Regions from separate parts of the Homo sapiens genome. Here region 2 is linked to region 1. The links come from fine-mapping of genetic effects on gene expression. A gene starts in region 1. The other region holds a variant in brackets. All regions are shown on one strand. Distances are from middle to middle. Region 1 holds the start of NLRP3 (NLR family pyrin domain containing 3). Region 2 holds the start of LOC124904575 (a long non-coding RNA gene).

The links. PIP is the estimated chance that this variant, and not a neighbour inherited with it, causes the effect.
Region 2: its variant is fine-mapped to the expression of NLRP3 in whole blood (INTERVAL, PIP 0.97).

Annotation. Positions count from the first base shown.
Region 1 is chr1:247,405,621-247,421,852 of GRCh38, forward strand. It overlaps NLRP3 (NLR family pyrin domain containing 3), which reads left to right and starts at 10,553. Exons shown (of 10, transcript NM_001243133.2): 1 at 10,553-10,573; 2 at 12,433-13,457. The coding sequence starts at 13,181. RefSeq lists enhancers at 4,737-4,786, 4,897-4,956.
Region 2 is chr1:247,439,333-247,455,564 of GRCh38, forward strand. NLRP3 (NLR family pyrin domain containing 3) reads left to right here. Exons shown (of 10, transcript NM_001243133.2): 8 at 4,640-4,810; 9 at 5,319-5,489; 10 at 9,073-9,485. The coding sequence ends at 9,172. OR2B11 (olfactory receptor family 2 subfamily B member 11) reads right to left here. Exons shown (of 2, transcript NM_001004492.2): 2 at 9,850-15,732. The coding sequence starts at 12,650. The coding sequence ends at 11,697. It overlaps LOC124904575 (a long non-coding RNA gene), which reads right to left and starts at 8,895. Exons shown (of 2, transcript XR_007067005.1): 1 at 8,752-8,895; 2 at 1-201. RefSeq lists enhancers at 885-1,204, 1,215-1,284. The variant T/A (reference allele first, on the strand shown) is at 9,568.

The DNA of each region.
Region 1 (16,232 bases):
CTTTGGTCTCCCACATAGCTGGGATGATAGGTGTGCACCAGGCTGGTCTCGAACTCCTGGCCTCAAGTGATCCTCCTGCCTCAGCCTCCCAAAGTGGTAGGATTAGAGGCATGAGCCACTGCTTTTATAACAGAACTATTCTTGTAATAATGAACCCATTCCCTGGATAATGACATTAATTCATTAATAAGCGCAGTGTCCTCGTGAGCTAATCACATCTTATGAGGCCCTCACCTTCCAACACCATTGCCTTGGTGATGAGGCTTCCAGCACATGACTTTGTGGGGGGCGCATTCAAACCAGAGCACCATGTCACATCATGAGAGCGCCATGTCACATCATGGAGTGCCACGCCACATCATAAGAGCACCGTGCCAAGTCATGAGAGCACCACGCCACGTCATGAGAGCGTCACGCCATGTCATGAGAGCACTGCGTCCCTTCATGGAGCGCCACACCACGTCATGAGAGCGCCACGTTACATCATGAGAGCGCCACGTTACATCATGAGAGTGCCACGTCACATCATGAGAGCGCCACGTGACATCATGAGAGCGCCACATCCCTTCATGGAGTGCCACACCACGTCATGAGAGCACCATGTCACGTCATGAGAGCGCCACGTCACATCATGAGAGCACTGTGTCACTTCATGGAGCACCGTGCCACATCATTAGAGCACCGCGTTACGTCATGAGAATGCCACACCACATCATGAGTGTGTCGCATCATGTCATGAGAGCACCACGTCACATCATGAGAGCACCATGTCACGTCATGAGAGCGCTGCGTCACGTCATGAGAGCGCCATGTCACATCATGAGAGCGCCACGTCACATCATGAGAGCGCCACGTCACATCATGAGAGCGCCATGTCACGTCATGAGAGCACCATGTCACATCATGAGAGCACCACGCTACATCATGAGAGCACCACGTCACATCATGAGAGTGCCACGTCACATCAAGTACTTATGGTTTACAGGGGTTAGGCTATGGGCATCTTTGGGAGCCGTTATTGTGCCTGCTTTGTGGTATACCGTCATCACTCAGTGTTCTCCATTATCTTTCTGTCTGCCATATGCCTTTCCTCTTTTTGTTTTCTTCTCTGACATTATCTTTAATATTTTCCGTGATGGTTCTTTTAAAAAAATTGGTCACTGTTCTTGAAATAATGGAATTTTTCCTGGAGTAGCGCTGTTTTGGAGAGTAGTTGGGAGAAGGCCTAGCAAATATCCCCAAGGAGTCTGTGGATATCATTCAGGGGAGATCTGTGAGTTTGGATGGGAAGAATGTTCTCTTCTTTATTTTCTCTAATGAATGTGAGTGACACAGCCCATTAGTATCAGTAGGTCCTATACATTTTTCACATTAGAAATTAGATACCTTCATATTGTTACAGTTTTGCTGAAACGTCAGTTGCTGTCACCACTACTTTCAAATTATGCCAGTTATTAGGCCCGCTGCTAGATATGATTAATTGGTGCATAAATATTACAAACTTTAAAAATGTTTTACCATTCTCTTTGTCATCTCTGTGTTTTATTTCATGCACTCGAAGTCCTTGTTCTGATAAAGGATGTATCCGCGTCACCAGTCATCAGAGTGACAGCGAGGTTCGGGCACTGGAACAGTGCCAGGCCGAGGCCTGGGGACGTGCTGGCAGGGCAGGCAGCGTGAGTCCTGCCTCCTGCTTTCATCCTGTGCTCTCTGCTCCTCTTTGTGGGGTGTGGTCCTCTCCAGACTAACAGGAAGTCTCCTTGACTCACACCAAAACCTACATGTCACAGATTTGGGGTGATTTCACTTGCACTTCTCAGTGACTGGTGTCAGCATGGCTGAGGCTGGTCTTGACCTGCAGTTTCTCCCACACTGGGAACAGACAACCATTTGCTCTGGCAGATGCTCGTCCGTGTTTCCTCCCCACTTCCTGCTGTTGCTCACAGTGTCCAAAGAGGTTTTGGGGTTTGCCCGTGGACTTGACCTTGTGGTTCCAAAGAGAGCGGGGCTCAGGGTTGATGACTCCACTAGTTTGTGCTTCAGCCCTGGGAAAACCTTGATTCTCTTTGCCACCCCCAAGGTCTACAGAGGGTCTCCCTCATCCTGGCCCTCCTCTTCCCAGTCCCAGGTGCCAAGCACCTGGGGGTCAGTCCCCCACTGAGTGGTGTCTTCATAGAAGTGGAGATTCCTTTTCTGTTTCTCTTTCTTGTTGTTCGTAGTTGATTTTAGAAATGACACGGGGGCTAGAGCTTTCCCCCTGCCCTCTTTATCAGGAACTCTTTTTAGCTTTTTCTGTAACTTTTTAACAAATTGCTGATGTTATTTGCAAAAAACAGATGATACAGAATTGTGTGAAGCAGAAACTTCTTCTCCCAACTCAGTCACCTCTTTTCAGGGTGACCTCGGAGGCAAAAGTGGTATGTATTTTCCATTCTTTTCTCTATGCTTATAAATATATTTCAAGAATTCAGTCCATTTATTATTTATATTGGTATATCTGGTAAAGCGAAATACAGTTTCTTACTTTTAATAATCATATTGTTGCACAACCAATCTCCAGAATGCTTTCATCTTGCAAAAGTGAAACTCTGTACTCATGAAGCACTCATTCCCCATTCCTCTCTCCCCAATCCCCCCACCCTCTGTTTTTTTTTGTCCCTGGTTCTATTTTTTGTTTCTGTGAATTTGGTTACTGTAGAAACTTCCTATACATAGAATCGTACAGTGTGTGTCCCTTGGTGACTGGCCTGTCGCACTCAGCAAATGTCCTCAGGGTTTGTCCATGTTGCAGTGTGTGTCAGAATTTCCTTTCTCTTTAGACTATTCCGTGGTGTGTGTATAGCCCTTGTTGTTTTTCCATTCATCTGTTGCGGGAGACTGGGGTTGTCTCTACCTTTTGGCTCTTGGGCATAGCCACCTGTTATGGACAAGGAGCACTAAAATCACCGTTTTTGTTTTTTTTTTTTTTTCCTGCAGATAACTGACTGCTCTCAAATGTCCCTTATCTCTGATGAAGGAACTTGATTGTTTATTTTTTGATTATTTATTTGTTTAAAGGCAAGGTTGAAAGTCAGGTGCTGTGAATTCCAATTCCTCGAGTTTCCGGTGGGCGATATAAATGAGAGGTGTGGACGGAAAGTAGGAGGTAGTAGGGAGTGGTGAGGACTGTGGAAAACCTGAGTCCATGCTCAGTGGGGGCAGCCTGCACAAGCTCCTGGTGCCACGTTTGTTGAAGGGATGGTGGTTGACTTAGTTCTAGAATTCTAAGTTTTAAACAGAAACCTGAAATCTGACTAGTTTATGTAAAAGCCCTGATTTTACATCTTGGCAACAAACTTAGAAATGTAAGTATACTGTGAGACTGAGATTTTGTGTCTATACCTCACAATAAAGATGAATCAACTAAAAATGTATTCAAAAGAAGACAATATTTTTTAAAAGCACCGAAAATTGTGAAAAAGAAAAAAATGTAGGTGGGATTGAATTTATTCCCTCATATATGAAACTGTTTATATTTCAGCAATGAAATAAAATATAAGTGACTCAGTCACTGGTTTTTAGTCAAGCCATGTATGCCTCACAAAAATCATACTATTGGCTGGGCGTGGTGGCTCGCGCCTGTAATCCCAGCACTTTGGGAGGCCGAGGTGCGTGGATCACCTGAGGTCAGGAGTTGGAGACCAGCCTGACCAATATGGTGAAACCCCATCTCTACTAAAAATACAAAAATTAGCCGGGCGTGGTGGTGGGTGCCTGTAGTCCCAGCTACTCGGGAGGCTGAGGCAGGAGAATTGCTTGAATGCGGGAGGCAGAAATTACAGTGAGCCGAGATTGCGCCACTGCACTCCAGCATGGGCAATAGAGTGGACTCCGTCTCAAGTAAACAAACAAACAAATGAACAAAAAACAAAATCATACTATCTATTACTTTTGTAATGAAGAATACTTACCTGTTTTCCTTCTCTTTGTGAGTTTGCAATAAAGTCCTCTCGATTTGCTTTAACTTGGCATGTGTCTTTCAGAGATATTGGAGAGCACTGGGAGGCATTCCTTAAAGGTAGATGAGGCAAAGAACCAAGACAAGGGGCTCTGGCTCTAACACTCTTGGTGGGTTCTAGAGATCAGATTATGAACACAGGAAAAGGAGAAGATAAATGGGATGAAGAAGCCAATTCCAACATATTACATAGCATGCTTATATGAAGGACTTGGCTTTCGTAAAGTAAGAACTGACAGCTTTTTTCTTGATGGCCATCCACTTTTTAGTCTGTGTCTCAGAAAGTGTAGAGGTCGAGGAATCGGGGGCCCCTGGGACTCTTGGGTCATAGACACATTAGGAAAACCCACCTCAGCTGGGGAAGCTGACTCAGCGCCAGCACTCCAGGCCCCAGAGGAGCAGTCACCCCTGGAAAGAGGGAAGAGCAGCAGCAGCAACGGAAGGTCACGTCTCCTCACAAGAACTCACAAAGTCTCGCTAATGTTATGACTGTACTTTCTGAAACCCAATTTGTCTTTGTTCATACCTTTTCCCTTCCTGCTAGTCACATTTTTTCTGGTGAGAGAAAGTGAAATTGCCATTTTTAATATCAGCCAGTCACTTTCAGTTTGAAATGCAGTCTGTTTCTTGGTAACCTCAGATACTTTGGCACTCCCCACCTCCGATCTCTTCTGTTCTCTCTAGTAGGGGAGGATGTCTGGCTTCTGGGCTGATCTCTGCCTTTGCTGAGCACCCCTGAGATCATCCCACTTGGGCTTGTGTCTTAGTCCGTTTGTACTAACAAAACACCTGAGACTGGGTAATTTCTAAGGAGCAGAAATTTATTTCTTAGAGCTCTGGAGGCCGTGAGGTCCAGGATCAAGGCGCTGGCCTTGGTGCCCGGTGAGAAGTGCTCTCTGCTTCCAAGATGGTGCCTTGTTGCCATGTCCTCACATGGCCCATGGCAGATAGGCAAGAGAGAGCACCCCCTTGAACCCGGAGCCCTTTTACAAGTGTGTGAATCCCATTCATCACCCCACAAACTCAATCACCCCACAAACACCACACCCCTGAATACTATTGTATTGGGGGATTAAGTTCTTTTTAAATTTTTATTTATTTGCGTATTTTTATTTATTTATTTATTTGGAGACAGGATTTGGCTCTGTCACCCAGGCTGAAGTGCAGTGACACAATCTCAGTTCACTGCAAGCCTTGACTTCCTGGGTTCAGAAGATCCTCCCACCTCAGCCTCCCCAGTAGCTGGGGACCACAGGTGATTTCAACTTGAAATCATTCATGCAATTTTAGTTTGGAATTCAGTGCTGTGAGTTCCAGTCCACTTAAGTGAGCTTTGGGTATTTAATGGAAGCAATTATTTTTCTTAAATGTACAAGAGTAAATTATTATTATTTTTTTTTGCATGAATGATGTATGGAAAATCACCGCGTTTTACTTTTGTGAGTTGACTTATTTATTTGTGTTGATTTTGATATTCCCAAATCTGAAACAAAATTTTTTCAGAATGCATAATAACACACAGAGTATGGTGGTCTTTCATTGACAAGTTTTTATGTATGATTAGAGTATCTTTTCAAGATTCATAATCTGCATTTTTTTAATATAGGGTCTCACTCTGTCACCCAGGCTGGAGTGCAGTGGCACAGTCCTAGCTCACTGCAGCCTCAATTTCCTGGGCTCAAGCGATCCTCCCACCTCAGCGTCCTGAGTAGCTGGTACTACAGGCATGCACCACCACATCCGTCTATTTTTTAATTTTTTGTGGAGATGGGGTCTCACTATGTTGCCCAGGCTGCTCTTGGCCTCCTGGCTTCAAGTGATCCTCCTGCCTCAAACCTCCCAAAGCGTTGGGATTACAGGTGTGAGCCACTGAAACTGGCCTGACCTACAATTTGAATACTACTGTACAGTTTACATTTTGCTGTCAGGTATTATTTTATTTATTTTTTCCTCTCTACAATAATGTATTATAGATCAGGTCTTGTTTTATTTGAGCCTCACAGGAAAGCTGAGGTGAGGGTCGCAGGCAAGGAGTCGGACCACAGGAGTGGTCGCAGCATTCAGCGGAGAGTGAAGCAGCGAAGGCTGGAAACCTCATCTGCTTCTCGTGAACTTCCCACTGCCCCAAGTGACTGATGTCCTTACACAATTGCAGCCAGTTCGCCAGCTGCATGAGTGACAGTGGCATAATTGACGATTGCCAAAAACGGAAACAGCCCAACTGTCCTTTGCCTAGGGAATAGAAAACCAAATTGTGGCCTATCCAACCCATGAAATACTTAACTGCAGTAAAAAGGAATAAGCTACTGATCTGAATCTCACAGGCATCATATGAAGTGAGCGGACTCGCTCACCAAAGGCTGCACACTGTTTATGTGATGCTCTGGAAAAGGTAATGCTTTAGCAGGTGGAAGAAGTGGGGCTGCGGGTGGGGACAGAGGCTGACTATGTGGCAGCACAGTGGGTGGGGACAGAGGCTGCACAGGGAGCATGTGCAGCTGATGCAGGTGCTCTGTGTGGGCTGTGGTGGTGGGTAGCTATATGCTTGTGAGCACTCACAGGCCTGTGCATGAAAAAGGTGCGAATATTTATTTTATTGTACATATTTCAGGTGTATAACATGGCAGTTTGATATACATAGTGAAATGATTGCTGCAGTCAAGCAAATTAACATGAGTTAACATAGCCACCATCTCACATAATAATCTTTCTTGTGGGTGGTAAAAACATCTAAAATCTCTCTTAGCAAATTTCAGGTTTATAATATTTTTAACTATCGTTCCCACACTGTTTGTTAGATCTCTCGGCTTATTTATCCTACATAACCGAAATTTCGTACCCTTTGACCGTCATTTTATTTCCTCTACCCCGGTAACTCTCTGTTTCTATATATTCAACTATTTTTTTTTGAGACAGGATCTCGGTCTGTCACTCAGGCTGGAGTGCAGTGGTGTGATCTCGGCTCACTGCAGCCTCGACCTCCCAGACTCAAGCAATCCTCCCACCTCAGCCTCCCAGCCTCTCAAGTAGCTGGGGTGACATGTGCACACCACTGCACCTGGCTTCCTTCCCTCCCTCCCTCCTTTCTTTTCTTTTTTTCATTTTTTTGGTAGAGGTGAAGCCTCACTATCTTGCCCAGGCTGGTCTCAAGCTCTTGGGCTCAAGTGATCCACTCACCTCAGCCTCCCAAAGTGCTGGGATTACAGGTGTGAGGCACCACTCCTGGCCTAACTTTTTTTTTTTTTTTTTTTAAGGTTCCACATATGAGTGAGATCATGTAGTGTTTGTCTTTCTGTGCCTGGCTTATTATGCTTTGTGTAAAGTCCACCGGGTTCATCTATGTTGTGGCAAATAGCAGAGTCTCAATTTTTAATACTAACTAAGATTGTATTGTGTATATATGCCCCAAACTCTTTATTTATTCATCTGTCAATAGACACTTGGGTTGTTTGCCTATCTGGACCATGGTGAATAATGCTGCTATGAACATGAGTGCACAGATGTCTTTGTGAGGTGGTGATTTTATTTCCTTTGGATACACACTCAGAAGAAGGATTGCTGGGTCATACGGTAGTTCTATTTTTAATTTCTTTAGGAACCTCCATATTGTTTTCTGCAATGGCTGCACCAATCTGCATTCCCAGCAGCAATGTGCAAGGGTTCCCTGTTCTTCACGCCCTAGCCAATGTTTGTCTCTTGTCATTTTGCTAATAGCCATCCTAACAGGTTTGAGGTGGTACCTCATTGTGGGTTTGGTTTGCATTTCCCTGATGATTAGTGATGTTGAGCACTTTTTTGTATACATGTTGACCATTTTTGTTTCTTTTTTAGAGAAATGTCTATTCAGTTCCTTTCTTCATTTTAAAAATCAGATTATTTGTTTTATGCTTTGAGTTGTGTGAATTCCTTACATATTTTGCATATTAACTACTTATCTGATATATGGCTTAAAACTATTTTCTTCCAATTTGTTGGCTACCTTTTCACTCTGTTGATTGTTTCTTTTGCTATACAGGAGCTTTTTACTTTGATGTATTCCCACTTATTTATCTTTACTTTTGTTCCTTTGCTTTTGTTGAGACATTAAAAATATCCATGCCAAGGCTAATATCAAGAAGTTTTCTCCTCTGTTTTCTATTTTTTATATTTAGTTTTTTATCTGTTTAGAGATTGGGTCTCATTCTGTTACCCAGGCTGGAATGCAGTAGTGTCATTATAGCTCACTGTAACCTCAAATTCCTGGGCTCAAGTGATCTTCTTGCCTCGGCCTCCTGAGTAGCTGGGCTACAGGTGCACAGCACCATGCCTGGCTAATTTTTTTTTTTTTAATTTTGTAGACACAAAGTCTCACTATGTTGCCCAGGCTGACTGTGAACTTCTGGCCTCAGGTGATCCTCCTGCCTCAGCCTCCCAGAGTGCTGGGATTACAGGCATGAGCCACCATGCCTGGCTTCTTCTCTATTTTCTTCTAGGAGTTTTACAGTTTTAGATCTTATGTTTAGATCTTTAATCCATTTTGAGTTGGTTTTTGTGTGTGCCAAGTTTTATTCTTTTGCGTGTGGAAATCCAGTTTCACCAAAAGCTTAATTTTTCAAAATCTTATATTTTTCTTGATTTTTTTTTCACACTTCTATAGCCAACATCTTTATTGAAGAGATTGTCCTTTCTCCATTGTGTCTTCTTGGTGACCTTGTCAAAGAATTAGTTGACTGCATATACTTGAGTTTATTTCTGTTCCACTGGTCTATGGGTCTGTTTTTATAAAGGCATGGATTTTTACTGCATATGAATTATACCTAAATTTGTCTTTTTTTTTTCCTTTTTCTGGAGAATGGGGTCTCACTATATTGCCCAGGCAGGTCTCGAACTCCTGGGCTCAAGCTATCCTCCCGCCTCTTGCCTCCCTGAGAGCTGGGATTACAGGCGTGAGCCACTGCGCCCGGCTGAATTATACCTAAATTAACTTGACTAAACAAACAAAAACAAAAAGATCCCAGGTTCAGCCAATGAGCTCCTTTTTTTTTTTTTGAAATGGAGTCTTGCTCTTGTCACCCAGGCTGGAGTGCAGTGGCACAATCTCAGCTCACTGCAGCCTCCACCTCCCAGGTTCAAGTGATTCTCTTGCCTCAGCTTCCTGAGTAGCTGGGATTACAGGTGCCCGCCACCACACCCAGCTATTTTTTTTTATATTTTTAGTAGAGATGGGGTTTCGTCATGTTGGCCAGGCTGGTCTCAAACTCCTGACCTTGTGATCTGCCTGCCTTGGCCTCTCAAAGTGCTGGGATTACAGGCATGAGCCACTGCACCCAGGCTGAGCTCCTTTCTTTTGGAGCATATTTGGTCTGCTTTCTCTCTAGCTTCAGCACCTGAAGTTTTTGCTGCTCCTGCCTCAGCTCCAGCCCCGAATGACACCTTTCACCTGGTTCATGGAGACTCAGGTCTGCTGTCATGCCCCTAAGCAGGACTAGATGCCTCTCTCATGTTGTAGAGCATTCTCTCTGCAGTTCTGTAGAAAGGTGGTAGTCATCGGAACCAACTGCTTATTCTAGCTTCTCTGTGCCAGGCTCTGTTTTAAAGGCCTCACGTTTAGCCATTCACTCAGTGTTTTCTGACAGCCTTCTAGGATAGGTACCGTTATTTGGGTTGATGTAGTGCTTGGTCAAATGCAGTATAATGAAGGGATCAAGGAGGGGGCAATTCCAAGCAAAACCACTTGTTCATCCATCCTGAGTCTAGGAGATTTGGAAGATCTAAAGAAGTAGCAGGCAATTATTGTCACCCTTTTACAGGTATGAGGCACAGACAGACCCAGTCATTTGCTGACATCCCTCCACTGAACTGGGTGCTCGTCCTTTTCACTCACCCAGAGGCTGAGCGAGTGCCTCTCACCCACCAAGCTCTGTTGAACTTGTGCCTTTGCCGGTCTGTGGTCCTGCGGCCGTCTCATGAGCTGCAGAGTAGGTCTGTGTGTGTCTCTCCTCAAGCTACTCAAGCTGAGGCTTTGTGTGCATGCCTGCCACATACCAGCCATTCCGTGAGTGTTAGTGGAACAGGTGAGTCAATGAGTCAGGGAGTAAAATTTGTGCTTTAAAAGTAGAACATGTCGGAGAGAACCTGTACTGCCTTCCAGCCATCTTGCTGTGAGAGGACAGGGCATGGACTCTGGAGTTTGAAGGCTGGGTCAGGTCATGCTCTGGATTCTTTACTCACTCGCATGGCATGTCCTTAGTTTCACTTCCCTCACTCTCAGTGGAGCCGTTGCAGCGGGCAGTGTCAGAGGCAACATCCATTTAGCACTGCCGATTTGACCCCCAGCCCCATCTCATACTGGCCTCCCACCCTGCTTCTGTGGGGTGCCTCAGAGGAGAGCAAGGTGAACCCCAGTATGGAACCGAGACACGGTTTTGACAACACTGTTGATCCCATTTGGAAAATCCAGCTATGTGATTAACCATTAGTCTCTCTGCCTCTGCTCTGATGTAAGTGGAGACCACATCCTTCCTGCCCCTTCTGGGGCTGCGACTGCTATAAATTCATTGCATTTCCTCTCTAGCTGTTCCTGAGGCTGGCATCTGGGTAAGTCCAGCTCCGCGGGGCAGTGTGGGCGACAGGACCGGGAGAGCAGTGGGGGAGATTGTGTTCAGAGGGCAGAACTTGTCCTGGTTAATGCACTAGGAATTTCTTCTGGCGTCTCCAAGGTTGTGCTTCAACAACATTTCTGGAATGTTCTTTTATCATTATTTGGGCTCTACGTGTGCAAGTTCGTGTGTGTGTATGTGGCGGGGGGAAGCGGGGAGGACAGCGGCAGCAACCATAGTTTACACCCACGACTTCAGCAGATTTGCCCAGTATCCCTCCCAGGGGAGAAGATGGATGGGATATACAGAAGGAAACAAACCTCCTTAAAGACCAAAGGGCAGCAGATTTTTGTGCTGGTGTTAGGGTGGAAGGAGCACAGAAGAAAGGCAGAATCCTGATGCAGATGGAAGGACTGATGGGGCAGGAGCTGGGAGGGTATGCGGAGCTAATAGGGCTGTCTGGAGAGCAGTCACCTCAGGATGGGCAGGAGCTGGGAGGGTATGCGGAGCTAATAGGGCTGTCTGGAGAGCAGTCACCTCAGGATGCACAGGGCTGGGTTTGCAGGGCTCAGGAGGCGAGGAGTAGATAGGCAGGAATGGAGATGGGACGGGAGAGATGAGTGAGTCTGAGGCATCTTGACATTGAACTGCAGTCACAGAAATTCCAATTTGGAGAGCTCCACCGTTTTCCAGGCTCTCTGCCTCCCTTGAGTGTTATTTATGGCTTTAGGTTGAGGTGCTTTGCCAAATAGAGTATAATCAAGGGATCAAGGAGGGAACAATTCCAAACAAAGCCAACTTGTTCATCCATCCGGACTCTAGGAGATATGGAAGATCTAAAGATACAGCAGGTGATTGCTAGTTTTTGTGGAACTCACAGTCTAGTTGGGAAGACTATGTTGGTGAATGCTGCAGTGATACACCTGTGATAAATGCTGGGGAAGTGTGTCTTTTAGTCATCTATTTTGTTGTCTTTGTCTTTGTCTGACTGAAACAAGTGATGGAAGACATGGTCTCATATCTCTGGTCAAAATCCTGGCTCTGTTCCTTCCTGGTTCTAAACCCCTCGGCAGGCTTCCTAGTCCCCCTAAGACTCAGTTTATGCATCTATAAAATGGGGCTAGGAATAGGTGCACCTCATAGAGCTCTGTGCAGGTTAGATGGGGAAAAACATCAGTGAGTGCCTAGCCTGTGGAAAGCTCTAAATTAATGTGAATTATAATGATAACAATTGCGAATTTTGCAAGGAGACATTAAAGGATGTATGTTTTTATTTATTTTATTTTATTCTATTTTATTTTTTGAGATGGAGTTTTGCTCTTATTGCCCAGGCTGGAGTGCAGTGGTGTGATCTTGGCTCATCGCAACCTCCGCCTCCTGGGTTCAAGCGATTCTCCTGCCTCAGCCTCCCGAGTAGCTGGGATTACAGGTGCCTGGTACCATGCCCGGTTAATTTTTGTATTTTTAGTAGAGACGGGATTTCTCCCTGTTGTTTGGTGAGCCTGGTCTCCAACTCCTGACCTCAGGTGATCCGCCCACCTCGGCCTCCCAAAGTGCTGGGATTACAGGGATGTATGTTTTTATTATTCTCCATTATGCACTCCCAGCTTCATCTCACTTCAATCCACTGGTTGATAGAAGTGCAGTCAAAGACTGTCCCCTCCTCTGCAAGCTTTTATGTTCTCTCTCCTCTCTCCCTAGCCACGTCCTGTTCTGTTATCAACACACTTACTCACCTCCTGGCCTTCTCCTTCTATTGTCTCTCATCCCTCTTCCCTCACAAAAACAGAAGCAAAGAGCCAGAGCCTTCAGTTTGGAGGAACTGAAAACATTCTCTTCTGCTTTCTCATTTTGTAGATGAGGAAACTGAAGTTGAGGAATAGTGAAGAGTTTGTCCAATGTCATAGCCCCGTAATCAACGGGACAAAAATTTTCTTGCTGATGGGTCAAGATGGCATCGTGAAGTGGTTGTTCACCGTAAACTGTAATACAATCCTGTTTATGGATTTGTTTGCATATTTTTCCCTCCATAGGGAAACCTTTCTTCCATGGCTCAGGACACACTCCTGGATCGAGCCAACAGGAGAACTTTCTGGTAAGCATTTGGCTAACTTTTTTTTTTTTGAGATGGAGTCTTGCTGTGTCGCCTAGGCTGGAGTGCAGTGGCGTGATCTTGGCTCACTGCAGCCTCCACTTCCCGGGTTCAATCAATTCTCCTACCTCAACTTCCTGAGTAGCTGGGATTACAGGCGCCCGCCACCACACCCGGCTCATTTTTGTACTTTTAGTAGAGACACAGTTTTGCCATGTTGGCCAGGCTGGTCTTGAATTCCTCAGCTCAGGTGATCTGCCTGCCTTGGCCTCTCAAAGTGCTGGGATTACAGGCGTGAGCCACTGTGCCCGGCCTTGGCTAACTTTTCAAAATTAAAGATTTTGACTTGTTACAGTCATGTGACATTTTTTTCTTTCTGTTTGCTGAGTTTTTGATAATTTATATCTCTCAAAGTGGAGACTTTAAAAAAGACTCATCCGTGTGCCGTGTTCACTGCCTGGTATCTTAGTGTGGACCGAAGCCTAAGGACCCTGAAAACAGCTGCAGATGAAGATGGCAAGCACCCGCTGCAAGCTGGCCAGGTACCTGGAGGACCTGGAGGATGTGGACTTGAAGAAATTTAAGATGCACTTAGAGGACTATCCTCCCCAGAAGGGCTGCATCCCCCTCCCGAGGGGTCAGACAGAGAAGGCAGACCATGTGGATCTAGCCACGCTAATGATCGACTTCAATGGGGAGGAGAAGGCGTGGGCCATGGCCGTGTGGATCTTCGCTGCGATCAACAGGAGAGACCTTTATGAGAAAGCAAAAAGAGATGAGCCGAAGTGGGGTGAGTGGAAGGAAGACTTTTAAAAAAAATTGTGGCCAAGTGCACATAGTGTACAATTTTCCATCTTTATATATATATATATATATATTTTTTTTTGAGACGGAGTTGCTCTTGTTGCCCAGGCTGGAGTGCAATGGTGAGATCTTGGCTCACTGCAACCTCCACCTCCCGGGTTCAAGCGATTTTCCTGCCTCAGCCTCCCAAGTAGCTGGGATTACAGGCATTGCACCTCCACGCCCGGCTAATTTTGTATTTTTAGTAGAGATGGGGTTTCTCCATGTTGGTCAGGTTGGTCTCAAACTCCCGACCTCAGGTGATCCACCCGCCTCGGCCTCGCAAAGTGCTGGAATTACAGGTGTGAGCCACCGCGCCCGGCCGTAATAATTTTTAAATGTACAGTTCAGTAGTGTTAGGTACACTCACATTGTGCAACCAGTCTCCAGAACTGTTTTCATCTTGCAAAACTGAAACTCCTCACCCATTGAATGATAACTCCTCATTGCCTCATTCTCCCAGCCCTGGTAACCACCATTCTATTTGCCATCTCTGTGAATCTTACTACTCTGGGTACCTCATATAAGTGGAAACATACAGCATTTTTTCCTTTATGAGTAGTTTATTTCACTCAGCATAATGTCCTCCGGGTTCAACTATGTTGTAGCATGTGTCGGAATTCCCTTCCTTTAAAAAAGACTGTATAAATACTCCATGGTACCATATACCAAATTTTGTTTAGTTATCTGTTGATGAACACCTGGATTACTTCTACCTTTTTGTTATTGTTAATGCTGTTATGAGTGTTGGTGCACAAATATCTCTTCAAGACCCTGCTTTGAATTCTCTGGGGTATATACTCAGAAGTGAAATTTCTGAATCATACGGTAATTCTGTTAAATATTTTGAAGAACTGCTCTACTGTTTTAGATACCATCTGCACCATTTCCCACCAACAGCACACAAGGGTTCCAATTTCTCCATATCCTAAGAACACGTTATTTTTATTTATTTTTTCTTTTTTATAGTAGCCATTCTAATGAGTGTGAGGTGGTATCTCACTGTAGTTTTGATTTCCGTTTCCCTAATGATAAGTGATGCTGAGCACATTTTCACTGCTTGTTGGCCATTTATAGAGCTTCTTCAGAGAAAGTTCTGTTCAAGTTCTTTTCTCATTTTCAGACCAGGTTTGGCTTTTGTTGTTGCCTTGTAGGAGTTCTTTATGTATTCTAGATATTAACCCCATATCAGATATATGATTTACAAATATTTTCTCCTATTCTGTGGGTTGTCTTTTCATTTGGTTAACTGTGTCCTTTGATGCACAGAAGTTAGTATGATTTTTTTTTTTTTAAATCATGGCCGGGCATGGTGGCTCATGCCTGTAATTCCAGCACTTTGTGAGGCTGAGGTGGGTGGATCACCTGAGGTCAGGAGTTCAACACCAGCCTGGCCAACATGGCAAAACCCCATCTCTACTAAAAATACAAAAAAAATTAGCCGGGTGTGGTGGTGGGCACCTGTAATCCCAGCTACTCAGGAGGCTGAGGTAGGAGAATTGCTTGAACATGGGGAGTGGAGGTTGCAGTGAGCTGAGATTGCACCACGGCACTCCAGCCTGGGCTAAAGAGCAAGACCCTGTTTCAAAAAAAAATTTTTTTTTCTTGTATTGTCTTGGTTTTTTCTCTTTTCCCCTCTCACGGTAGTGCTATGAGAAGGTGGAGGCAAACTGTTTGCTTTCTCTAACTCCTTTAAAAAGCTGATGCAGACTGTACCTACCCCCTGGGCACCTGCCATGATTAGTCCCTCTTTATCTGAATCTCAGCAGTGCCTAGACCTGCCTCCAATTCTCCATCCAGCTTCTCAGACCACATGTTTTGTCCAGTATCTGCTGTGTGGTCAGCAGGCTTGGGCCTCTGCTTCCTATGGCCCAGAGGGCAGCCTCTCTCCTTGAAGAACCGTGGAGTTTGGGGCAGAAGCCTTTCCTTTCACCACCACTTTGGGAATTGGAATGTAAAAGAAATTCTCTTAATCCCCATGTACACATTGGGGATAAGGTTCTTTCTTTTGTCTTGTGTTCTAGGCAAAGGTAGGGCTCAGAGAAGGGCAGGGTATTGCAGGATGATGATGTAGAGCTGGTGGTGATGGGAAGGAGGAGTACAAATGAGTCAGTGGATAGGGAGACACATGTTAAGGCAGGGCAGCAGTGTGGGTGTAATGACACTGGGGAAACAGACAGCAGTGTGCAGCCGGGGGAGGTCAGAAACCAGTTGCTGCAATGGCTCTCACCTGTAGTCCCAGCTACTCAGGAGGCTAAGGCAGGAGGATCGCTTGAGCCCAGGAGCTCAAAACCAGCCTGAGCAACATAGGGAGACCTCATCTCTAAGTAAATAAAGCAATTATCATTGTGTCAGTACTTATATACTCACATACCCAAATGAAAGTGTCATAATCACAACTGTAGAAGTACTTTGCTAAGCAGTTTTTATGGATTTTATGGCACATTCAAGAAACCCATGAAACAGCTTCTGGTATTATCCCTCCTGCAAGTGAATGAGGTGAGCCTGGAAGAGATCCTAACTGGCCCATGGTTTATTTCTAGCCATAACCAGAGCTGGGGTAAAAAGCAGGGCATGTCTCTGATCAAAGCCTGGCTCTTAACCACTACACCGTCTTTGCTTCCATATCTGGATTTTGAGGCAGAAAAGTTATAACTAGGGTTAGAAGTTTGTTTGTTTGTTTCCTGGGGTGGGGTTAGGTTTTAGGTAATAGACTTTGGCT
Region 2 (16,232 bases), 34 kb after region 1:
TTAAGATGCTAGCAGGCTGGGTCCTTCTGAGGGCTGTGGGGAATCTGTTCATGCTTCTCTTTGGCTTCTGGTGGAATGTCATCTTGCTGACACATTTTGCCATTCCTTGACCTGTAGATGCCTCTGCCACACCATTGCCTTTATCTCTACGTGGTGTCTTCCCTGTGTCTGTGTGTGTCTTTCTCCATGTCCCAAGTTTCCCTGTGAAAGAACACAAGTCATGTTAGATTTGTAACGACCTGATCTTAACTAATTACATTTTCAGTAACCGTATCACCAAATAAGGTCACAATCTGAAGTACTGGGGCCTAGGACTTCCACATATAAAGTCTTAGAGGAAACAATTCAATCCATAACACCCTATCTATTGAAACTAGAACCATAATATAAATATTTTTCTGTGATATCCTTTTTTCATTTATCATGGATAAATTTCCATGCTGATTTGTGTAGATCTATCGATTGGGGCATAATATCCCATAGTGTGCTTTACCATAATTTATTTAATCAAATCATGCATTTTGGGATAACTGTTCTTTTCCACTATTACAAACAACTCTGCAAAAAGCACATTTGTATATATAGTTTTATGCATGTGTATTTGCTTTGAGATAGGTATCTATAAGTGGCATTAATCAGTCGAGACTTTTATGCATTTTATGTGTTAGGTACAGCCATACATGTGGCTGTGTGTTAGGTATAGCCTATGGGTTAGGCATAGCCTGTGTGTTAGGTATAGCCTATGGGTTAGGTATAGCCTACGTGTTAGGTATAGCCTATGTGTTAGGTATAGCCTATGTGTTAGGTATAGCTACATTTTTTTCTCTCGAACTTTGGGTCCTCATCTCTGGCTGCATATTGTGTACTGCCTGTCTCAATACTGCTCAAGGGTCACACATGCTGAGCATTTGCAACATTGGTTTAATTATCATACCCCACCTTCCACCCCCGTTCTCTGACCTGCTCCTGCCCTCTTCCTCCTGCCTCATTGAATAGTGGGGCTTTCCAGGAGGCTGCTGAGTGAGTAAACGGGGGACGGTCCTAAATGCTCTGCTTTCGGTTCCCTCTACCACTCATCACTACACCAGAGGGAACTTTTTAAGATGCAAATTTGAAAATATTGACCCTTTGTTCAAAAATCTTCAAAAGTTCTTCTCTGCAGTCAGAGTGACATCTTAGCTTGGCACACAAGGCTGTCCCTGATACTGCCCTCTCTCCTGCCATACCTTGCACTCCATTTTGAGTCATATTGGATGAGTTTTGTTTTGCTGTTTTAGAGATGGGGACTTGCTATGATGCTCAGGCTGAATTTGAATTCCTGGGTTCATCTACAGCCATACCACCCAGAGTGCCTGATCTCATCTGCACTCCTGGGCTCAAGCAATCCTCCCGTCTCAGCCGCCCAAGTAGCTGGGACTATAGGTGGACATCACTGTGCCCAGCTATGAATTAGTTTTGAAACATCTTGGTGGTTCTTTTAATCTTCCTTATTCTTGCTACTCTTTTCCTTTTGCCTGGAAGGTTACCCCCACTTTCCCACTTTCTACTATCCATCTAAGAAGCTCCTACTTATTTTTTAATTACTGTGATCCTCATTTTGTCCATTTAAAAGCAGGGATAAAACTAACATTCCCATCTTGAGGTTGTGATCATTCAATGAGATAACCCTGTTTAAAGTCGTCATCCATGTCAAGCACACAATAAATACTCAAAAAATGTTTGATCTTCTTCTTCAGATTCCTTCCTTCCTTCCTTCCTTCTTCCTCCTCCTCCTTTCTTTCTCTCTTTTTCTTTTTCTCTTTCTTTCTTTCTTTCTCTCTCTCTCTCTTTCTTTCTTTCTCTTTCTCCCTTCCCTTCCCCTCCCCCCCCCCTTTCCCTTTCCCCTTTCCTTTCCTTATTTTCCTTTCTTTTCTTTTCTTTTTTTAAGACAGGGTTTTGCTCTGTGGCTCAGACTGGAGTGCAGTGGTAGGATCATAGCTCACTGTAGCCTTGAACTCTCCTGGGCTCAAGCAATCTTCCTGCCTCAGCCTTCTGACTAGCTAGGACTACAGGTGTGTACTACCATGCCTGGGTAATGTTTAAAATGTTTAAAATTTTTTATGTAGAGACAGGGTCTTGCTATGTTGCCCAGGCTGGTCTCAAACTCCTGGCCTCAAGTGGTCCTCCCACCTTGGCCTCCCAAAGCACTGGGATTCAGTTTTCATTATGAGACAGTTTTGTGACATAGGCAGGTAGTTAATAAATAAAAATCCCCAACCAATTAACTTAATACAGTACATGGCAAGATATCCGTGCTTGGTAAATGTAGAGCTCAGTTAGGTGGATTGGTTGAAATCGAGATGTCAATCACATTCCTCTAATCCAAGGATTGGTTGGTGGGACATGGTTGTTTGATTCTTTAAACATTTTATTATGTGTTCAGTGTAACCGTTGCTTAATAGTTACCAGCATTTTCACAATTTGGATATGACGTTTTCTTAACAAAACTGCACCGTCTGTTGCAATTTCTACTACTACTGTGTAGTGCTCCCCAAACATCTGTTGAATAATCCATTCTACTCCTTTTTGGAAATAGTGGTAAAGCCTGCATAACTTTAATTACATAATTTAAAAAATATTTTCTCTTTTCCTCTTTGAAGACCATCCCCATTCTACTAGAATGTCCCTGGCCTTTGCCAGGAATGCTACTAATCCCTTCTGCATGTTAATTAACAACAACCCTCTGATAGAATTCTTACCGGGGATGAGAGCTTAGTAGAAGCCACTCAAAACTTGCTTTGTTTTTGTCTGTCTCTCTTGGGCTTCATTTGCCTATTAGTCTTACTTACTGTGTCTTTTCAGTTTGACTCTTCCTTAATTGGGAAGATAGAAACCAGTGGATGGATAATCACTTTTTCCTGCTGGTCATCTGTTCATGCTTTACTGTCTGAATACACTTTTTCTGTATTTCTATTTTTCCTGCCTCGTAGACACCAAAGAGCTTAAAAAACATGCCATTGCCAAGGACTCTGGCAGGAAGGAGGCAATCACCTGCGCTATTCCTGGCTTCATGGAATAGAAGCATCTGTGCTCCTAGGAATTACGCCACCAGTGATTTTAGAGCTCTTATGCTCTTCCTGGGTGATAGAATGGGCTTAATTTGACTCAAGAATAGTACATCAAAACTCTTAATTCCATCGAGATTGATGCATTTTTGGGGTTTTATGCTCTAAAAGGCCTTTTGCTGTGCAGAAGGAAGAGAGAGGTGGACAGAAAGGGCAGTGGGGAGAAGATGAGACTAAAAGGTGGAAAGTCCAGGTCTGGATCCCTCCCCACCACACACCTGCTCTGTGGCCTTGAGAGAAACATGTAATTTTTATAAGCCTTAGATTTCTAATATGTAAAATGTATGTAATAGTTTTAGCTGCACTCCTTCCTTGCCAGGTTGATATAATAATCAAATAAGACTGGTCTCTGGGTCAGGCACAGTGGCTCATGCCTGTAATCCCAGCACTTTGGGAGGCCAAGGTGGGTGGATTGTCTGAGCCCAGGAGTTTAAGACTGCAGTGAGCTGTGCACTTGGCCTGGGTGACTGAGCAAGAGCCTGGCTTTTTCTATTTATTTATTTATTTTTGAGACAGAGTCTCACTTTGTTGCCCAGGTTGAAGTGCAGTGGCAATCTCGGCTCACTGCAACCTCTGCCTCCCAGGTTCAAGCAATTCTCCTGCCTCAGCCTCCCAAGTAGCTGGGATTACAGGTGCCCACCACCACCCTAACTAATTTTTATATTTTTAGTAGAGATGGGCTTTCACCATGTTGGCCAGGCTGGTTTTGAACTCCTGACCTCGTGATCCACCCTCCCAAAGTGCTGGACCTCCCAAAGTGCTGGGATTACAGGCATAAGCCACTGCACCTGGCCTTATTTATTTATTTATTTAGGCAGGGTCTCACTCTGTCACCCAGGCTAGAGTGTGGCAGCGCAATCATGGCTCACTGCAGCCTCGACTTCCTGGACTCAAGCGATCCTCCCACCTCTCCAACGTGGTTGAGGGCTGCAGCGAGAAAGATGTGAAAGGGGCATTTGGGGGCGCAGGAAGGCGGGAGGTGGCAATTGCTAAGGGCCCCGCCGTGTTCCTGTCACAGCCCTAGCTACAGCTTAGAAGGTCACAATGGACGTTCACCTGTTGTCTTTGATGTTTAAATCAGCACCGACTTCCCATGAGGAGGATTTTTTTTTCCTGTCTCTCTTAAAAAAAAAAAAAAAGGCCCCTGCAGTGTGGGTGTCTGCAGTGTTACGGGGATTATTAGTTGAGGATAACCACTGGGATGTGTTTCTGGAAGAAGTGGTGCTGAGGAGCACTCCTGGCCGGAGGAAAGCTGTGTGAGGAGGAGGAGGAGTATGGGGTAACTGGCTCAGTTTGCCTTGGCTCTTTCTGTCGGACTCATACAGCAAAGCATCTGCTGAGACATCATTTGTGTCTCCTGTGACAGCCAGAGACAGCAGGTCTTGCTCTCCCCAGATCATATCTGAGATGCTGGCTCCTGCTCTCTGAGCTGAAGGCTGCAGCTGCTGAGAGAGGACGAGGCACTGAGTCAAAGCAGCTGCACAATGTTGGGGAACAGCTGGGTACTGAGGACTCTTCTCCCTGTCCTTCTACAGGTTGGTGAATTCTGGCCTTACGTCAGTCTGTTGTTCAGCTTTGTCCTCGGTACTCAGCACTAATCAGAATCTCACGCACCTTTACCTGCGAGGCAACACTCTCGGAGACAAGGGGATCAAACTACTCTGTGAGGGACTCTTGCACCCCGACTGCAAGCTTCAGGTGTTGGAGTAAGTCCTTTGGTTTATTACAGCAATGAGAACACATGGTGGCCAAGGGTGGAGGGACGTTTAGGCAGAGTGGCCACAAGATAATCTGTATCTTAGAAGTGAGGTGTCTTCTTAGTGTTTGCCTTGTTACAGGATCATGGGACTGGGAGGAGTCCTTCCAGATGATATAGATGTAGGAACTTGAGTCCTTACCATCACAGTTTTCTGTACCACAAAACAAGGAGGGCAGTATGACACTTACATTTTATGGAAATGTAGGGAAAGGCACAGAATTTGGTAAATCAATGAACAAACCACTGTTACTAATTTGATCTGTGCAATGCAGTGGATTTGAAAAAGAGAGAGAAGAATAATTACCAGCATACAAGGCTGCTTGAAGCTAGTTAGTCCTGTGCTCCTGTGCTTTTTTTTTTTCCACCTGAAACAAGACAGGCTAAGATGCTAAAATCTTGGGGAGCTAGGGGGATGGTTAAGGGGACATTTTCTTTAAATCACCCCCTTTTTGCAGATTAGACAACTGCAACCTCACGTCACACTGCTGCTGGGATCTTTCCACACTTCTGACCTCCAGCCAGAGCCTGCGAAAGCTGAGCCTGGGCAACAATGACCTGGGCGACCTGGGGGTCATGATGTTCTGTGAAGTGCTGAAACAGCAGAGCTGCCTCCTGCAGAACCTGGGGTGAGTGTGCTCTGCAGAGATGCCCGTGGTGGGACTCTGAGTTCTCAGGAAACGTTGACTGTTATCAAAATCCAGGATGGCTCTCGCTTCATTTGCAGCCACTCAAGATTAGGTTGGGCCTGGGTCAGTTGTGGTGGATATTTTAAAATAGAGAATATGGGGTTAAACTACACATTCCACTTCACTGAGATGGTTAGAATCACCAAGGCTAAGCTGGATTTCACCCACATTCCCCAAAGAAACACAAGCCCTCATGCGATCATGGCCAAGGAGGATTCTGTTCTACACAAGGAACCGAACTTCGTAGAACTCGTCTATGGGTCATCCAAATTGGAAGGGTCTTTACATAGTGGGGATCTTGTTGTTTTGTTTCTGAGGATTTATTTTTTTTTTCCTTGAGACAGAGTCTTGCTCTGTCGCCCAGGCTGGAGTGCAGTGGCATGATCTCGGCTCACTGCAAGCTCCGCCTCCCGGGTTCACGCCATTCTCCTGCCTCGGCCTCCCAAGTAGCTGGGACCACAGGCGCCTGCCACCACACCCGGCTAATTTTTTGTATTTTTAGTAGAGTTGGGGTTTCACTGTGTTAGCCAGGATGGTCTCCATCTCCTGACCTCGTGATCTGCCTGCCTCGGCCTCCCCAAGTGCTGGGATTACAGGTGTGAGCCTCCGTGCCTGGCGGTTTCTGAGGATTTCTAAATGGGAAAAGAGTGCTCCAGGAATAGCAAGATGGGAAATTACACGAAATTCGACAGTGTGTCAGGATATTGCCAGCCCACCTCTGTGATACTACTGAGGTAGTCGTCTCCTCTCTAGCAAGAGCTTCCTGGCGAGTCCCACGGTTCTGTCAGCCGTGATGATTGCACTTTTCCCTGAAGACGTTTTCACTGCTTGGCTTTAAGGCCAACATGCTCTCCTGGGTTTTCTCCTATTTCATCAGATCCTTCTACTCAGTCTCCTTTCTGGCCTCTTCTTCATCATCCTGACCCTTATGTGTTGAATCCTCAGAGCTTAGTCGCTGGGCTAATTTTTCTTCCCTACACTTTCTCCCTCATTTAAATTATCTGGTCTTCTGGCTTCATGATATGTGTGCTGTGGCCTCCAGATTATATGTCCATAAATTCTGTGTCTCCGTGCTTGGCTGATCTTTCTTCTTGAAGGTTTAATAAACCTCTCAAACGTCACATCTAGATCCACACCCTTGCTACTCTCTTCTACCCGAAACCTGATTCTTCCCCATTTCAGTCGATGGTCACTTCCTCCAAGTTGCTCGGGCCAAAACATTTCTGGTTCTGTCGTCACTGTCTCTTTTTCCTTATAATCATGTCCAATGTGTCAGCACATCCTGTGAGCTCTGCCTTCCCAGCTTGGCCACTCCCTGACCACTTCAGGCCAGCTTCACGGCTTCTTCCTTGGCTCAAGCCACCATCACCTGGTGTCTGGATTGTCATGGTGGCATTCTGACAGGTCACCCTGCATCTGTTATTCTGATTTTAGCAGACAAGGGATTCAGCTAAAACGTAACTCGCATCATATCACTCTTGTCAACATCGTCTTCTTATCACTTTCATAATCAGAGCAACAAACTCATGGTGGCTTCCATGCCCCACATAATCCAGCCTCTCCTGCTTCCGAAGATTCCGCTTCTCCCAACCCTTGCTTATTCTGCCCCAGTACAGTGATCTCCTTGCTGTTTTGCAAGAACACTGTCATCTCTGGATTTTTGCACTTGCTTTTCTTCTGGCCTAGAACTCTCTCCCCTTCAGTATCCACCTGCATTATTCCCTGTACCTTCCTAAATTCTCTGCTTAAAGGTCTTCTCTGCGAGGCTGTCTTTGACTATTCTACTGAAAATAGAAGCACTTTTTCTTCTCTTCTCATTCTCCTCTGCAGTGTAGCACATCTTATGTGCTATGTCATTTTCTTGTTTATTTATTATCTATCTCTGCTCCCAAAATATAAATTCCATTAGTCCAGGGACTTCTGTCCATATTAATGATCTCAAGGCTGAGAACTTGTTGGAATGCAGGTTTGAATAAATACAAGTTTGAATCAGCCTTGCATCCTTGTGCCAACATAATGGAGCACATTTGCTGCAGGACAAGCCAATATTCCCAGAGCTAAGAGAGATGGGGGAACAAACAAAGGATTGGTCAGGTCAAAGCTGGGGACACTGCTACATGTAGCATCACTGACCTAGCCCTGAGGGACATTCTGGACCCAGGCTGAGGGACAGGCTCAAAATAGATTGAAGAATCCATGAATGCAATCAACCCGTTTTCTCAGGCTGCGATAACAAGCTGCTTTAGACTGTGTGACTCAAACACAGATTTATTATCTCACAATACTGGAGGCTAGAAAGTCCAAAATCAAGTCTCTGATGAATTTGGTTGCTGGCGAGAGTCCTCTTCCTGATTTGCAGATGGCTACCTTCTTGTTATGTGATTGCATGGAGGGAGGGGAGGCAAGGGAGAGAAGACAGGGGAGAAAGAACAAACTCTCTGATATCTCTCCTGTAAGGGCACTCACCCCATACTGAGGGCCCCACCCTCACAACTTCATCTAACTCTAACTACTTCCCAAGGGCCTCACCTTTAAGTACCGTACATTAGGGGTTCGGGCTTCATCATGGGAATTGTTAAGGAAGACAAACATTCAGTATATAACACCACCAAATTGAGATGGTTATAAATGGTGCAGGACAAATGGGTGGATTTATTAGTTAAGTTGCAAGGGAAACTTTATTAAAGAGGAGGAAGAACTTACATCGAAGATGTGAGAGGCATCCTGGGCAAATGCAATGTGTAGAATTGATCAGGTTAGTGACTAAATGAACATAAGGTAAAAAAATTTACAAGACAGTTGAGGAAGCGTAAATGCTGACTGGACATACAGTGATACTAAGAAATTATTGTTAAACGATTTTGGTGTGATAGTGACATTGTAATTATATTTTAGTGTCACAAAGTGAATTATTGATAGATGCATTAAATGCAGTATTTAAAATAATCCATGGGTGGGAGGAGTGGGTGGGCAATAGAAGAAACAAGTTGACATGACCTGTTTAATTGTCGAACTTGGGTAATGGACACAGGGGGTTCATTATACTATTTTCTATACTTTTATGTATGCTTAACATTTTCCCAACTAGATAGTTAAAAATATAACAGGAACCACATTGGGCACTTAGAGCTTTTTTTTTTTTTTCCCCACATTTTTATTGGGAGCCGTGGGAGGGGCCTCCTCTGTCATTGGAGGTGCTCACAGTTTCTTCAGCCACTCCAGGCTGGGGTCCTGGGGGTCTGAGGCTCCCAGTGACGAAGGACACGACGAGCACCGGCTCCTTGGCCCAGGCATTCTTGAAGAAGGTGCGGAGTCTCGCGGCCATCTTGGTCTCGGCGGCGGCGACGGCGGCGAGGACGCGGAGCACTCTGGGAGTTGTGGTCCCTCTTTTTTTTTTTTTTTTTTTTTTACATTTTAGAAGTGTGTGGAGTTTAGGGAAATGAAGAGATGAGACTTTTAAGGTTAACGACTCTGACAGAGTTATCTGAAGAGTGCAACCCAGGCTTTCTATTTGCTTTTACAGGTTGTCTGAAATGTATTTCAATTATGAGACAAAAAGTGCGTTAGAAACACTTCAAGAAGAAAAGCCTGAGCTGACCGTCGTCTTTGAGCCTTCTTGGTAGGAGTGGAAACGGGGCTGCCAGACGCCAGTGTTCTCCGGTCCCTCCAGCTGGGGGCCCTCAGGTGGAGAGAGCTGCGATCCATCCAGGCCAAGACCACAGCTCTGTGATCCTTCCGGTGGAGTGTCGGAGAAGAGAGCTTGCCGACGATGCCTTCCTGTGCAGAGCTTGGGCATCTCCTTTACGCCAGGGTGAGGAAGACACCAGGACAATGACAGCATCGGGTGTTGTTGTCATCACAGCGCCTCAGTTAGAGGATGTTCCTCTTGGTGACCTCATGTAATTAGCTCATTCAATAAAGCACTTTCTTTATTTTTCTCTTCTCTGTCTAACTTTCTTTTTCCTATCTTTTTTCTTCTTTGTTCTGTTTACTTTTGCTCATATCATCATTCCCGCTA[T/A]CTTTCTATTAACTGACCATAACACAGAACTAGTTGACTATATATTATGTTGAAATTTTATGGCAGCTATTTATTTATTTAAATTTTTTGTAACAGTTTTGTTTTCTAATAAGAAAAATCCATGCTTTTTGTAGCTGGTTGAAAATTCAGGAATATGTAAAACTTTTTGGTATTTAATTAAATTGATTCCTTTTCTTAATTTTAAAAAAGAGTACCTAGAAATTTTTCAAATTATTTCTCTAAACCACTAAAGATAAATTAAATTGTTTGGTGCATTTTAAAAGTCACTTTGGCAAATGATTCCATTGTAGATAATTTTTAAAACGTTACCTCACTCTAACTGTAATGAGTGGAATTTCATCTTTGATAGGATAGGAGATTGAAAATCGTGGAGGGAAAGGTTTGAGAGTATCAGAGCCTGCGCTCCTAACTAGAAGTATTATGTAGAAGATGCATCTTGCTTTCAGTTGATAACAGCTTATTTTGGATTTATCCCATCCGAGGAACAGTTCATCTATTATACTTCACAGAGCATTAAGTTATAAGGAAATATTTACTAATTGCTTCTCTACACATGGACAACTCTTAAACCGCATGGAATTGCTCAGGATGGAAATACTATTTCCTCTGTACAATTAGCCATCAAAGTAGCCACACTTTGCTACTCAAAGTGTAGTCTATGAACTGTCGATATAAGGAGCTTGTATAAGAATGTAAAACAATCACATTATTAAACATACCTTTTAGATGAGCTGACATTTAAAAAAAACCCTGAAGACTATTTTTATAAGGGAAACAGTATGAGATTTACATTCTGTTGCAAACTCTGTCTTGTTAGCACTTCTGAGCAGCACCAACTGGAGACTGGGTTTCTGCATCTTGGTGAACTATTACCGACTGCCTTCCTGCTACAAACACTTTGATAACCTATATAAATAATGTAATCAGAAACACATAGCTGAGCTTGAAAGAGAGAAAGAGAACCTTTGGGCATTAGGACATTAAAACTGGCCAGGTTGCTGAGAATGCCATTATTTCATTCCTTTTTATGGCTGAATAGTATTTTTCCATGGTATATATCTCACATTTTCTTTTTCTTTTTTTTTTGAGATGGAGTCTTGCTCTGTCGCCCAGTCTGGAGTGCAGAGGCGCGATCTCGGCTCACTGCAACCTCCGCCTCCCGGGTTCAAGCAATTCTCTGCCTCAGCCTCCTGAGTAGCTGGGATTACAGGCGTGTGCCACCATGCCCAGCTAATTTTTGTATTTTTAGTAGAGATGGGGTTTCACCATCTTGGCCAGGCTGGTCTTGAACTCCTGACCTTGTGATTCACCCGCCTCGGCCTCCCAAAGTGCTGGGATTACAGGCATGAGCCACTGCGCCCAGATGGTTCCATATTTTTCCAATTGCAAATTGTGCTGCTATAAACACGCATGAGCAAGTATCTTTTTCGTATAATGACTTATTTTCCTCTGGGTAGATGCCCCGTAGTGGGATTGCTGGATCAAATGGTAGATCTACTTTTTGTTCTTTAAGGATCCACAATGTTTTCCATCGTGGTTGTACTAGTGTTTGTACTAGTTTACATTTCATGGAAAAACTTTCTATAGAAGAAAATGTGAACTACAGAGAAAAAAAAATCAAAATCACAGGAAGAAGATAGCAATCTACTTCATTCCTGGAATTGTCTGAAAAAGTCGTGTAAAATTTGTGGAGATTTAAGTATATGGAGAAAAACACTTATTCATTGTAAGTAAAATAAGATTGTATTTCAGCTTCATCTTGTGTATACTTAGGAGTAATAGAAAAGAGACAAATGGGGAGAGAATAAAAGAAATATAGGAAGAGGAAAAGAGAAAAGAATCAGGAAATTGGAAGTGAAATAATTCCACACATACTTATTGAAGTCTATTTAAACAATGCTTAAAAATATATGGCCTCTTAGAATTATACGTTTAAAATGAACTTTGTCGCTATGGGATTTGGGGCATTATAACAGGAAGTGAGATGTTTGAAGACAGGGTTTTTGAGCTCTCTGGGTATTAACTCCTTAAGTGAAAGATGCTCTGAGTGCACAATAGACTTGTGCTGTGTTCTTTAATTGATGGAGATGCTACATCTCATGTCCTCATCATCCACAGAGCCTCCAGATCCTGGCCAGAAGTCTCCTCAGAGCCCCCTTCATATCTTTATTTCTCAGGGTGTAGGTGAAGGGATTGAGAGTGGGGGTGATTATGGAATAGAAGAGAGAAATAAATTTGCCCTGCTCTTGGGAGTAGCTGGAAGGGGGCTGCAGATACATGTAAATCGCAGGTAGGTAGAAGAGGGAGACGATCATCAGGTGGGAGGAACACGTCCCAAAGGCCTTGTGTCGTCCCTTGGAGGACTGGATCCTGAGCACTGCCCGGGCAATAAAGCCATAGGAGAGAAGGATGAGAGCCAGGGGCACCAACACGAAGAAGGCCACCAGCACAGCCAGTATGGTGTCATTCACAGCGGTGTCAGCACACGACAGCTTGATCACGGCCGGCACCTCACAGAAAAAGTTGTTCAGCACCTGCCGCCCGCAGAATGGCAATTGCACCGTCAGGACCACCTGCACGAAGGAGTTGCCGAAGCCACTGAGCCAGGCCAGAGCCACGAGCTGCTGACAGAGAGCACGGTGCATGAGAACGGCATAGTGCAGGGGCTTGCAGATGGCCACGTAGCGGTCCAGGGCCATGGCGGCCAGGACGATGCACTCCGTGCATCCCAGCCAGTGGAAGACTGCATATTGCACAGTGCAGCCTCCATAGCTGATGGTCTTCTGGGAACTGCCCATGTTGACCAGCATCTGAGGGACTGTCGTGGTGGTGTAGCAGAGGTCCAGGAAGGACAGGTGACTGAGGAAGATGTACATGGGGCTGTGGAGTTGAGGATCCACCCGGGATGCCAGGATGATGGCGACGTTCCCCAACATGGCCAGCACATAGGACAGCAGGAGGACCACAAAGAGAGGGAGTTCCAGCCACGGCCTGTCAGACACACCCAGAAGGATGAAGGCTTTAGGGGAGTCCCCTAAGAAGCTATGGTTGTCACTTTTCATGTTGCGGCATTTTCTGGCACTTGTGGCAAATTGAGAAAATTGGAATGAATAATACCTGAGAAGAGGAATTGATCACTTTCCTCCCTCTTGCATCCACTCTTCCTTTCCCAGGTGATAGCCTGTTTGATTCTCCTTACCTCTGTGGAGACGCTGGGATGCGGAAGGGTCAGAACCAGGAGCCCCAGTAGCAGCCTCTGTGTCTTTGCTCTCCTTCCTACTCAGTGGCCGCAACTAAACCATTTAATATTCCTGAACTTCTGCATCTGTAAAATGGGGAGAAATACCTCCTTCAATTGCCAAGACTTGGGGACGATAGAGACATTAAGTATGTGAGAAGAATACCTCACGAATGACAATTATGTTCCAGGTAGAGCGAAGCGTGCTGCAGCTCCCATCACCGTCAGAGTGTTTGATTTCTCTCTACATCCACATCGACAAGGAATTGTCCACCTTCTTAGGCTTTCCCATTTTGGGAGGTAGTGGTAGGAGGGAGGCAGGCGGTGACATAAAGCAAGCAGAAGGGCTTTGTGAGCAGCTGGGGGCTGTATTGATAGGACCACCCCCCGTCACTGGCTCACGCTTGCATCCAGCTCCCGGATTCATGCTGATCTCCGCTGTCATGACCACACACGCACAGGCAGCCCTGTCACTCACACTGGCAGTAAAAGCAGCACAATTCTAGGTCCTGTGAGTCTCTGGAGTGGAAGAGCCAAGGTATACGTTACTTCAGCCCCTGAATAGGTCATGGTAGTTAATGAGACCCCAGACCATGGAATTTTGAGCACAGGGAGAAAGCTCTTGATTGGCGTGAGAAAGGTAGCCCCTGGAATTGTCTACGGAAAGATCAGACTGCCCTCTAGGGCTAGGTTTTATCTGATGGCTTGAGTGACATTCCAATTTCCTGCACAATTTCTTTGCCGAGCAGCTGTCACCTCTCAGTGATAGAAAACAGCCAATTTGATTTCTGAAACCATTGCTGTTAGGAAGCAACTGGGTTGCCACCTGCTGATTCGTGGGTCCTTTCGACTGCACCATTGGCTTCTCACCTCCTACAATCGCTCAAGCATTGCACACCTTCCAGTTCCTGATGGGGATGTTATGCTCCATGATAGGATTGAAAAATATTATTAATAAACAATAATTAATTAATCATTATTCATAATAAATCCTGTAAGCAGATAATTTATGAAGGATTTTTATTCTTGATTTGGTACCTTATGCATAGACTGTAAAACTAACGGAGATCTGCTCAGCTTACATGTTGCAACAGGTGTTCCCTGCTGCCCCAGTTGATGTTCTGAAGAACTCTACTGTTACTGGAAAACAACTCAAACTCCAGGGTTTCAATGGAGGAATAAGTTCAGTTTTTCCCTCCTGCTTCTCTAGTTTCAAAACCACACACGTTTTGTCAGAAAGTTGCCAATATTCTTGTGAAACATTCAATTATCGTATCTCCTCCCAGATTCTATCAACAATACTTATGAAATAAACTTCACAGAATGTGATCTTATCTCTAACGAGCTCAAGATGCCTGTCAAAACAGTGAGCTGTGGCCGAGCAAAGTCAAGCTAGCACATTTTTAAGTCTAATTATTAAGAAGTAAAGGAATTATGACATTTCTCTTTCTGAGATTTCTGATTCCAGAGTTTCTTTTCAGAGCCTAAACTGGGAGAAAAGGGAGAAGTTGTAGGGATAGTGAAGAAAGAAATGAGAGAATGAAGGAAGCAAGAAAGATAGAGGGGTAAATGTATGCGGCAATTTATAATAAAGACAAGTTATTTACCACTCACTGTGAGCCAGGTACTGTAATAATAACTTGATGTTGCCTTAATATCTCAGCAAGGTCCATGTTTTCACCCCTAATTGACTGAGCGACTCGGGAGGACAGCTGGTCTACCTTAGTTACACGGCAGCAAATGGTAAAGCCAGGACTGAAAGCCAAACTCCTGCTCTTCACTACTATTCTCTCCAGAACTTTGCTTTAAAAAAAGAGCAGCTGGTGACATGGGGAGCAGCAAGGGCAGTCGCGTAAACGACTGAGACAAAAGAAGTTCCTGGGAAGGGGAGATGAGGGAGAGGAAGGTCACAGGATAGAAAGGGGCAGGGATTAGAGAGGAGTGGTTTTCTTGTAATTATAGTCCACTGTACATGTGCACACTTACGTACACACGTGCACACACATGCATGCACGTGCACACGCACACACACACACACACACACACACGCACACACACACGGTTTCTCAATGGCAAAGCTGGACACTGCCCAGCCCTGCCCCTCATGCCCTGGATCTGATGCCCTTCTGTTCAGGTGTTTCCACACGGAGCTTTCGTAGGTGTCTAGCCTCTGCACTCCTTGACCTTCTTTCATCTTCCCACTACCCAAGTACAGGTGCCCCCTCAAGGCACAGCCTTGCTTCCCTGGATGGACACAGTAGTTCCCACAAACATCGCCATCGCATTCAGACGGAATCCCTCAGGCTGTATCTACAGTTGTCAGTTCCTCACTGACCTCTAACCCCCTTTTTGACATTGTGAACTGAGGCATCCCAAATTTCACCTGGCAGCCATCCCCCCAGACTCAAACCATCTCCTTCATCTTAATTCTGGCTGAGTTCCCTTCAGTCACCGTGATGCCAAGTACTGAGGTTCTTTCTATTCATGTTCTACTCCTCATTCACTCTAGTTCAGCACCGAAGTTAAAGAATTCAACACCCACACAATGCTGTGATCCCACCACAATGTTGCATCGTTGCAGGCACGCACTGTCTGTATCCTCACCACTGCCGTCCTGGGCAGAAACGCCCACCAGGACCCCTCTTGGAACTTGCTACCTGCCTCTCTGCAGGCAGTTTCAACCCCTCACTCACCCTCACACGAAGTCATCTTTCTGAGACTCAGGCCTTAAGGCAAAGATATCTTTAGGTGTTTCAATTACCAAAAACGTAAGAACCCGTCGCTCAAGAGTTACCTGCTGATTGTATCATGTTCACGCTGAATTCCCGCAGTTTCTTCTGGGGGCTGCTGGCAGGCTAGGCTGTGAACACGCAGGCTGTGATACACCCTTAGATATATATCATTCCCTGTAGGATATATAATCCTTATGATTAATATTTATATCTCTATATCTATATCATCTACCTCTTATCCCTGACATTTGCTGCTGAAATCTCTGCTGAAGCTTGACGGAACACATTGTTACCTACTCCATCACACAAGATGGAAAATCAAATTTACAGCAGTGTGTGGAATTCCTAGAAAGTAGCTTATGAGATGGGCAAACAGAAACATGGTCATAGGATTTTATTGCTTATTAGTCCAAAGGGTCTCTTTCTTCAGTCTAGAATGCAGCCTCCCATCCCACAACCGGGATAGCCTGGTCCAGGCCCTGTTCAGCTGCGGAGGCCATCATTGGGATTACACTCAAGAGAGTCTTGGGGACAAGGCTTAATGATAGCAGTATTTTCCTGAACTGATAATAACACGGACTCTTTCATCACAAAAAGAGAAAGAGCCCCTTTCTCCTTATTTAAGAGCCCCTTTCTCCTTATTTGTTTGCATTTGCAGTCCTGGTTCAATGGCA